Linked DNA regions of Homo sapiens. The protein of the gene in region 1 purifies or fractionates together with the protein of each later gene. This does not show direct contact. Each region holds a gene or a part of one and is shown on either strand. Other genes may lie near its edges.

What was found. The genes of interacting proteins can lie anywhere in the genome.
Region 2: the proteins of SLC39A6 (region 1) and TAF6L purify together in Homo sapiens (affinity purification with mass spectrometry; one large-scale study listed by BioGRID and IntAct). This does not show direct contact.

What each region holds. Positions count from the first base shown.
Region 1 is NC_000018.10:36,111,535-36,116,399, reverse strand, and holds part of SLC39A6 (zinc transporter ZIP6 isoform 1 precursor), read left to right. Parts: intron 1-1,925; coding exon 1,926-2,303; intron 2,304-3,818; coding exon 3,819-3,899; intron 3,900-4,865. UniProt on the Homo sapiens protein: Zinc-influx transporter which plays a role in zinc homeostasis and in the induction of epithelial-to-mesenchymal transition (EMT).
Region 2 is NC_000011.10:62,777,090-62,781,954, forward strand, and holds part of TAF6L (TAF6-like RNA polymerase II p300/CBP-associated factor-associated factor 65 kDa subunit 6L), read left to right. Parts: intron 1-888; coding exon 889-1,039; intron 1,040-1,195; coding exon 1,196-1,246; intron 1,247-1,779; coding exon 1,780-1,874; intron 1,875-4,804; coding exon 4,805-4,865. UniProt on the Homo sapiens protein: Functions as a component of the PCAF complex. The PCAF complex is capable of efficiently acetylating histones in a nucleosomal context. The PCAF complex could be considered as the human version of the yeast SAGA complex.

The DNA of each region.
Region 1 (4,865 bases):
TTATTTTACCACACTGTCTTTCTCTAGCTCTGTCTACACACACACCTTTTTCTTTAATTTTTTAGTGACTAAAGGGCCAGCTACACACACTTTTTTTCTAAACCATTTGAGAGTAAGTTATAGACATGATGTTTCTTTACTCCTAAATACTTATGTTTCCTAGGAAAATGGACATTCTCTCATATAACCAGAGTTTAATTATTAAATCAGGAAATTTATACTGATACAGTGCCATTCTCTGTAGACGTTATTCTTCCAAATGCCTTAATAGTGCTTTTTATGCCAACACTCCCCCAACCCCCACCAAAATATTGTTCCAGAGTACAATTCAGGATCAAATATTGCATTTAGTTGCCTCTACTTTTGGGTTTGTTTAGTATTTTTGCATGATTAGGTTGATCAGTTTTGGCAGGAATACCGCAAAATGGTACTTGTCCTTTTCTGTCACATGGTGTGCCACCTGATATGATTCTTTGTCACTTATTGGTGGTGGTAATTTTGATCACTTGCCTAAGGTTGTATCTACCATGTTTCTCCTGTTTTTCCTGAAACTTGGCTGTTTGCTTGGCATATCTTGTCGGACAGACTGAGTTAAGATTCATGTTTTCAACCCAGCTCCTTGCCATGATCTTCAAGGTCCCGCTGAGCCCACCACTCTCCCGCATTGTTCACTGTGCTCCAGCCCCACTGGCCCTCTTTTCACGCTGGGAGCACATAAGGCTTGTCTCCGGGCCATGCACTCACTATTCCTTGTACTTGGAATACCGTTCTCTGAGACCATTACATGCATTCCTCCTCTTGTTGTGCAGGTCTCAAATCAGGTATCTCCTTTAGAGGCCTTCCCTCAGCACCCAACGACAGCAGGCATGAGCCACTGTGCCTAGACCACACTGTTTTGATATATGGTTGTTGTTGTTGTTGTTGTTGTTGTTGTTGTTTTAATTTTTTTTTTTTTTTTGAGACGGAGTCTCACTCTGTCACCCAGGCTGGAGTGCAGTGGTGCGATCCCAGCTCACTGCAAGCTCCGCCTCCCGGGTTCACGCCATTCTCCTGCCTCAGCCTCCCGAGTAACTGGGACTACAGGCACCCGCCACCATGCCTGGCTATTTTTTTTGTATTTTTAGTAGAGACGGGGTTTCACCATGTTAGCCAGGATGGTCTCGATCCCCTGACGTTGTGATCCGCCCACCTCTGCCTCCCAAAGTGCTGGGATTACAGGCGTGAGCCACCACGCCCGGCCCCCTCTTCAGTTTTTTAAATGGACTCCAGTGAAATGTGTAATGATGGGGAGGAAATACCTGCCCTAGAAATGGACTGCAGTGTCAGGGATGGTTCCAAGAAAATTGATAACTATGTACAGGAGAAAAAAAATAACCTTATTGTGGCAATTTATTTTCCTTTGCACAGATAGATAATAAATGCTTCTTGGTGATGATGAAATAATTCGGATTCTCTGTTTTTTCCTTGAATTTTGCCTTCCAAAAAAGAGGAAGTCAGATGGCAGGATTATGCATGTTTTTTTATTTCTAATTTTCATTACTTCTCTAAGATATTTTTCTAAAATAAATATTTTAAATAACATAACATGTTTTCTAAAACAAGCAGGTTCTTCTCTTAGGATGAGGAAAAAAGTCATTTTTAAAAAGGTAGGGAGGCAGAAGAAATTGAGGGAGCATCTGAGAGGTAGTTATTGAAGGTTAACATTTAAAATCCATTCTTAATATTTGAGACCATTCCATTTCTGGAATTCATTAAAATCTTTTGATGTTTTTCATCAGTAATACTTTAATATTTAGTTCTGCAGATATGAAGGAGTTATCATGCTTTAAGATCTTCTGTTGACTTTTTCAATGAGGTTTGAAATGTCTCCAAGTCCATTAACAAAGCCTTCTAACTGTCCCCATGCCCTTTATGTTTATTCCTAGGAACTGAAGGCTATTTACGAGCAGACTCACAAGAGCCCTCCCACTTTGATTCTCAGCAGCCTGCAGTCTTGGAAGAAGAAGAGGTCATGATAGCTCATGCTCATCCACAGGAAGTCTACAATGAATATGTACCCAGAGGGTGCAAGAATAAATGCCATTCACATTTCCACGATACACTCGGCCAGTCAGACGATCTCATTCACCACCATCATGACTACCATCATATTCTCCATCATCACCACCACCAAAACCACCATCCTCACAGTCACAGCCAGCGCTACTCTCGGGAGGAGCTGAAAGATGCCGGCGTCGCCACTCTGGCCTGGATGGTGATAATGGGTGATGGCCTGCACAATTTCAGCGATGGCCTAGCAATTGGTATATATCTACATATTTGTTCCTTGTTGATTGATTCTGAAAATGTCACATTAAACACCTAGTCAAATTTTAACAAAGAATAGATTAGTTTAGATGAGGATATTAGTGACTTCCAAGATTATAAAAATGTTACTTTTTCTTTTACTACTTTGACAATGAAGTGCTCAATAAATGTTAGGTATGATTAAATGCTAGGAATTGTACCTAGCCCATTACCTAAATTGTAACTGTCAAAAGCTGTTCTTAAATTGCAAGGTCTTAAGATCAGTCTTTAATTTGTATGGTGCATGTATGAGATTTTTTTTTCTCCCTATACATTGAAGTTCCCTTATCGATAATATAATATTTATAAAAGTAAAATTATATTTTCCATCATCTTTTATGCTAAAGGAATCTTCATACATCTAAGTCCAGTTACCAGTCTCTATCCTATGAAGAATTATAGAACTTTTGCTAATAAATTGTTATACCACAATTGGGAGATAACAGAATACTTACAAATTTTAATAATTTAGTGCTGGAAGGAACCATGCAATTAGGCAGCTGAGGCCTGTCAAGGTGACGCCACTTGTCCAAGGAGGCTGTGCTGTGTTATAGCTAGGCCTGGCCTTGGCTCCCTGGGAGTCGAGTGCTCTTCCTCTTGTACTATATTATGCAGAGCTGAAACAGACAAAGGAGGAATGTCCGATTGCACAGTCGGCTGGGTGCGGTAGCTCATGTCTGTATTCCCAGCACTTTGGGTGGCCAAGGCAGGAGGATCGCTTAAGCCCAGGAGTTCAAGACCAGCCTAGACAGCATAGTGAGACCTTATCTCTACAAATAAAAAAAAAAAAAATTAGCCAGGTATGGTGGTACACACCTGTAGTCCCAGCTGCCTGGTAGGCTGAGGTAGATGGAACGCTTGAGCCCGGGAGTTTGAGGTTCTAGTGAGCTATGATCTCACCACTATACTCCAACCTGGCCAACAGAATGAAACCCTGTCTCTGAAAAAAAAAAATATATATGCACAGTCATGGTTTATAATTGATTGATTGTATAATATGTCAGATTTTTAAAAGGGGACGGCTATTTGTCTTAGAGTTTTCTCACTGAAACAGTGAAAGAATAAATGTAAACATCTAGTTACATAGTAAATTCCTCTGAGGCAAGTGAAACATGTTTATACCCTTGACAGGAGAGTTTTTTCCTAAACCTTTTAAACAGTTTATTTTATATTCTTGAATATGCCTTTTATATGGTAGCAGTTACTCCTCAGATTTGTATAACTTTATCCGCTCATTCTAAGGCCTAGAAAACCTTCCCTTCTCTTTCATGCCCGATGTGCTCCTTTGGGAAATTTAGACCTCATGGAATGTACTCTAAGATTTCTTACAAAGAAGATACAGAGTTGGTTTGGGAAACTTCTATTCATTCACAGCCAAAATACCATTTTCTTGTTACCTCATTTTGCATACTGATAAGATTAAAAAACACAAATTAATGTAGCCAAACTTTTTCTGATTGATTTTTACACAGGTGCTGCTTTTACTGAAGGCTTATCAAGTGGTTTAAGTACTTCTGTTGCTGTGTTCTGTCATGAGTTGCCTCATGAATTAGGTAAGAGAACCACATAAATTGTATTTGCCAAGTGGGTGAAATGTTCTAGTGTCACTGGCTTTTGCTAATGGTAGTTCAGCAAGCTTCTTCATCAATTTCATGCCTTCTCATAAGTCTGCTAACCAGCATACTGATGACATCAGGGATCATCTTCATACACACAAGGTGAATAAGACTACAGGATACAAAGGAATCATCTTCCATTAACAAAAGTTGAGAAAGAGAATCTCATTGGAATTGAAGGGAAGTGGATGAGTTGTGTTTTCAATATTGTTCTTCTTTGTCACTAGGCATTAAAACCTTCCCAAGTTCTGGATCCCAGTTCACGTCCTTGTTTTTCTTGTTTTGGAGATATATTCACACACATACCGCTGATGCCATTTTCACTTTTGTTCCTTGTTATATGTTCAGCCATTCCTTATCATCTTCAGCATCTATGTTCCACATTCAAGTCCCATGAAGCCCCTCTCTTATTTCCATCTTCATGTGTCTCTTTTCTCCTTTTATAATTGTAGCATTGAACTCTTCAGCTGTTTTTTATGCATTACCATTATCATTTGCTGATCATCTCATGTGTGTTCTCCACCCATTCCTCCCTTCTTTGTGGCCAAATTCCAAGCTCCTTGAAAACACTGCAAGACCACAATATTAAATTTTTAGTGTTTATCATTTTGACAAAGTGTAAGCCTTAAAAAATTTTTTTGGTTAAGGTATCTGGCCAGGTGCAGTGGCTCACGCCTTTAATCCCAGCACTTCGGGAGGCCGGGGCAAGGGGATCACCTGAGGTCAGAAGTTCAAAACCACCCTGGTCAACATGGTGAAACCCCGTCTCTACTAAAAGTAAAAAAATTATCCAGGTGTGGTGGCATGCACTTGTAGTCCTAGCTACCCAGGAGGCTGAGGCACAGGAATGGCTTGAACCCAGGAAGCAGAGGTTGCAATGAGCCAAGATCGGTGCCACTGCAC
Region 2 (4,865 bases), on another chromosome or scaffold:
TGAGCTGAGATTGTGCCACTGTACTCCAGCCTGGGTGACAGAGCAGGACTCCATGTCAAAAAAAAAAACAACCAAAAAAACACAAAAATTAGCTGGGTGTGGTGGTGGGCACCTGTAATCCCAACTACCTGGGAGGCTGAGGCAGGAGAATCGCTTGAAACTGGAAGGCGTAGGTTGCAGTGAGCCGAGATCACGCCACTGCATTCCAGCCTGGGCGAAAGAGCAAAACTCTGTCTCAAAACAAAAAAAAGAAAAAAAGACTAAACGCACACATAAGGGAAGCAAGACCCTGATAGCAACAGCAGACCAGGTGCTAGGCCCAGCCCACCTGGGCTATGTGTTCAGAAAAGAGGGAGAGGAGGCCACTGGAGGCCCAGAGGTTAGAGAAAGCTTTTTGGAGGAGGTGGGACTGGAGCTGGCCCTTAAAGGGTGGTGAAGAACTTGAGCTTGGCTTAAACTAGGCCAAGAGGAAAAGAAGGCATTCAGGCTAAGGGAGGAGCCTGAGCAACAGTGTGGGTGTTAGGGCCTCATGGTGTGGTTTTTCTGGAGCGGTGAGTTGAGAGAGGAAGGCTATGTTTAGAAGACATTAGTGAGTTTTCAAAGTTGAGTGAGTGTGAATAAGGAGGACCAGTGCTTGGTGTGGGGCTCAGGACCCTTCCAGTTATGGGAGGAGCGACCATGTTCTTTCCCTTGACCCAGGGAGCCCCGGATGCTCCAGGCAAGTCCCCAGTGGTGGCTCTGAGTCCCAGGCTTCCACCACTTTTCTTGGGACTTCTGGACTTCCTTCAAACGTGGGCTCTCTGCTCTGGTCAGTGGAGCCTCATCCTGGATCCTGACGCCTGCTCCCTCCCTGGATTCAGGCTGCTCTCCAATTCCCTTTTTCCTCAGGCTGTGTGTGGTTACGGATCACAGGAGGCACTGCCCATGCGCCCCGCCAGGGAGGGTGAACTCTACTTTCCTGAGGATCGAGAGGTGAACCTGGTGGAGCTGGCCCTGGCTACCAACATCCCCAAAGGCTGTGCTGAGACAGCTGTCAGAGGTGGCTGCCGGGGTCCTGCATGGGTTGGGGATGGGAGTTGGGCCGTGAAGAGAAGTGGTGATGGGCTGGCTGGTGGAAGAGGCAGAACTTGGAGGGGTAGGCGGTACTCTAAGGGGCAAAACGCCAGGCTGACACATCTCTCTGCACTGCTTCTAGTTCATGTCTCCTACCTGGATGGCAAAGGGAACCTGGCACCTCAAGGATCGGGTAAGGGGTGATGTAGGAAACAGGCTCTTTGGATGAATTTTCTCCCTTAGGTTCTGAGGGTGGTGCCTATGTGCCCCCGAGTCTGCGTCTAACATGTGTTTACCCATGCCTGCCTTGTGCCATGGTCTGAGTGGGCGCTGGGCTCTGCATGGAGGGCTCAGAGTTGGAGATGGGGGCCCAGACCTGTAACTAGTCATAATGCAGCATGTTGGATGCTAAGACAGAAGTCTGGGCAGCATGCTGGGGCGGTGTTTCACCCCCAGGGTATGCTGAGCAGAGCTTCACAGAGCCTGAAGCTCTCAGGAGTCCGTCTGGCAGAGGGTGGGTGGAAGACAGGACAGAGCACAGAGGTGTGCAGAGCCTAGATGGTCAGGGCTGAGCAGGCTCTAAGAGCAGTCTCTTGCCCTGGTTGTCCTGTCAGAAAGGCTTCTTGTGGATGTGTGTGGGGATGGTGGTTGAGGGGGAGGAGGCTGGAGAGGCCAGGAGAGGGCCAGCTCTCCACCTGTCCCTGCTTCCTGCCTGTCCTCTGGCAGTGCCCAGTGCTGTGTCTTCACTGACAGATGACCTTCTCAAGTACTATCACCAGGTGACTCGTGCTGTGCTAGGGGATGATCCGCAACTGATGAAGGTGAGCGAGTGGGCCCAAGTTGGGGCACAAAGTTGAAATTGTAAATTCTAGACCTGTTTTTTTTTTTTTTTTTTGAGACAGAGTTTCGCTCTTGTTGCCCAGGCTGGAGTGCAATGGCATGATCTCAGCTCACCGCACCCTCTGCCTCCCAGGTTCAAGTGATTCTCCTGCCTCAGCCTCCTGAATAGCTGGGATTACAGGCGTGTGCCAGCATGCCCGGCTAATTTTGTTTTGTTTTGTTTTGTTTTTGAAACGGAGTCTTGCATTGTCACCCAGGCTGGAGTGCAGTGGCGCGATCTCGGCTCACTGCAAGCTCCGTCTCCTGGGTTCATGCCATTCTCCTGCCTTAGCCTCCCGAGTAGCTGGGACTACAGGTGCCCGCCAACATACCCGGCTAATTTTTTGTATTTTTTAGTAGAGACGGGGTTTCACCGTGTTAGCCAGGATGGTCTTGATCTCCTGACCTTGTGATCCACCTGCCTCAGCCTCCTAAAGTGCTGGGATTACAAGTGTGAGCCACCGTGCCCAGCCTTATATTTTTAATAGAGACGGGGGTTTCAGCATGTTGGTCAGACTGGTCTCGAACTCCCGACCTCAGGTGATCCACCCGCCTTGGCCTCCCAAAGTGTTGGGATGACAGGTGTGAGCCACTGTGCCCGGCCTAATTCTATGAACATTTAAATTTTTATTTATTATTTTAATTAAAAAAACATTTTTTTTAAGATGGGGTCTTGCTCTGTCACCTAGGCCGGAGTGCAGTGGTGTGATGTTGGCTCACTGCAGCCTCTACCTCTTGGGTTCAAGCAATTCTCCCACCTCAGCTTCCCAAGTAGCTGGGATTACAGGGGCATACCACCATGCCTGGCTAATTTTTGCATTTTTAGTAGAGATGAGGTTTCACCGTGTTGGCCAGGCTGGTCTCAAACTCCTGACCTCAGGTGATCCACCCGCCTCTGCCTCCCAAAGTGGTGGGATTACAGGCGTGAGCCTATATATATATATATATATATATATTTTTTTTTTTTTTTTTTTTAGAGACAGGGTCTCACTGTATTGCCCAGGCTGGTGAAACTCCTGCCCTCAAGCAATCCTTCCTTGGCCTCCCAGCACTTTGGGAGGCAGAGGTGGGCGGATCACTTGAAGTCAGGAGTTCGAGACCAGACTGTCCAACATGGTGAAACCCCATCTTCACTAAAAATACAAAATTAACTGGCTGTTGTGGTGGGTGCCTGTAATCCCAGCTACTCGGGAGGCTGAGGCAGGAGAATTGCTTGAACCCAGGAGGCAGAGGTTGCTGTGAGTCAAGATCACACCACTCAGGTGGATCACCTGAGGTCAGGAGTTCAAGACCAGCCTGGCTAACATGGTGAAACCCCGTCTCTACTAAAAATACAAAAATTAGTCACGTGTGGTGGTGGACGCCTGTAATCCCAGCTACTCAGGAGGCTGACGCAGGAGAATCGCTTGAACCTGGGAGGCAGAGGTTGCTGTGAGCTGAGATTGTGCCATTGCACTCCAGCCTGGGCAACAAGAACAAAACTTCATCTCAAAAAAAAAGATCACGCTGCTGCACTCCAGCCTGGCTGATAGAACGAAACTCCGTCTCAAAGAAAAACGAAAAAGTAATACTAGTACATGTTTACTGTAGAAGTACATATAATATAAAAACATAGAAAAAGAAAGTGGCTGGGTGCGGTGGTTCACGCCTGTAATCCCAGCAGTTTGGGAGGCCGAGGTGGGTGGATCATGTGAGGCCGGGAGTTCGAGACCAGCCTGGCCAACATGGTGATTTCCCGTTGGATATCTACTAAAAATACCAGAAAATTAGCCGGGCTTGGTGGCATGCGTCTGTAATCCTAGCTACTTGCGAGGCTGATGCAGGAGAATCGCTTGAACCCAAGAGGCAGAGGTTGCAATGAGCCGAGATCGCGCCACCGCACTCCAGCCTGGGCAATAGAGTGAGACTCCATCTCAAAAAAAAAAAAAAAAGGGCCGGGCACGGTGGCTAACGCCTGTAATCTCAGCACTTTGGGAGGCCGAGGCGGGTGGATTGCTTGAGGCCGGGAGTTCGAGACTAGCCTGGTCAACATGGCAAAACCCTGTCTCTACTAAAAATACAAAAATTAGCTGGGCGTGGTGGTGGGCGCCTGTAATCCCAGCTACTTGGGAGGCTGAGGCAGAAGAATTGCTTGAACCCAGGAGGCAGAGGTTGCAGTGAGCTGAGATTGAGCCACTGCACTCCAGCCTGGGCGACAGGGCGAGACTCCATCTCAAAGAAAAAAAAAAAAGAAAAAGAAACTGAAAAGTCTATTCCTCCACCTACTTTTTTTTCTCTGTATCAACTATGATTACTCTCATAAAAACCTAAGTGGTATTATATTAAGCATCTGGTTTTATAGATTGCCTTTCTCAGTTAAAAATGTTGGATGGCCGGGCGCGGTGGCTCACGCCTGTAATCCCAGCACTTTGGGAGGCTGAGGTGGGCAGATCACGAGGTCAGGAGATCGCGACCATCCTGGCTAACACGGTGAAACCCCGTCTCTACTAAAAAATAGAAAAAATTAGCCGGGTGTGGTGGCAGGCGCCTGTAGTCCCAGCTACTCGGGAGGCTGAGGCAGGAGAATGGTGTAAAACCTGGGAGGTGGAGCTTGCAGTGAGCCAAGATCGTGCCACTGGGCGACAGAGCGAGACTCGGTCTCAAAAAAAAAAAAAAAAGTTGGACATTCAGGTTGTATTCAGGGCCATATGCAGGTATATGTGAATGAGTTTCTGTAGGTTACATTTATAGAAATAGAATTGCTAGATCAAAGAATATGAACATTAAAATTGTAAAACATGAATAAGGTGATACACTGTCTTCCAGAAGAATACCGCATTCATGTTTTACAATTTTCTGGTGGATCCAATGCAGTCTGGGCCCTTCCTTTTAGGTTGCACTCCAGGACTTGCAGACGAACTCCAAGATTGGGGCACTCCTGCCTTACTTTGTTT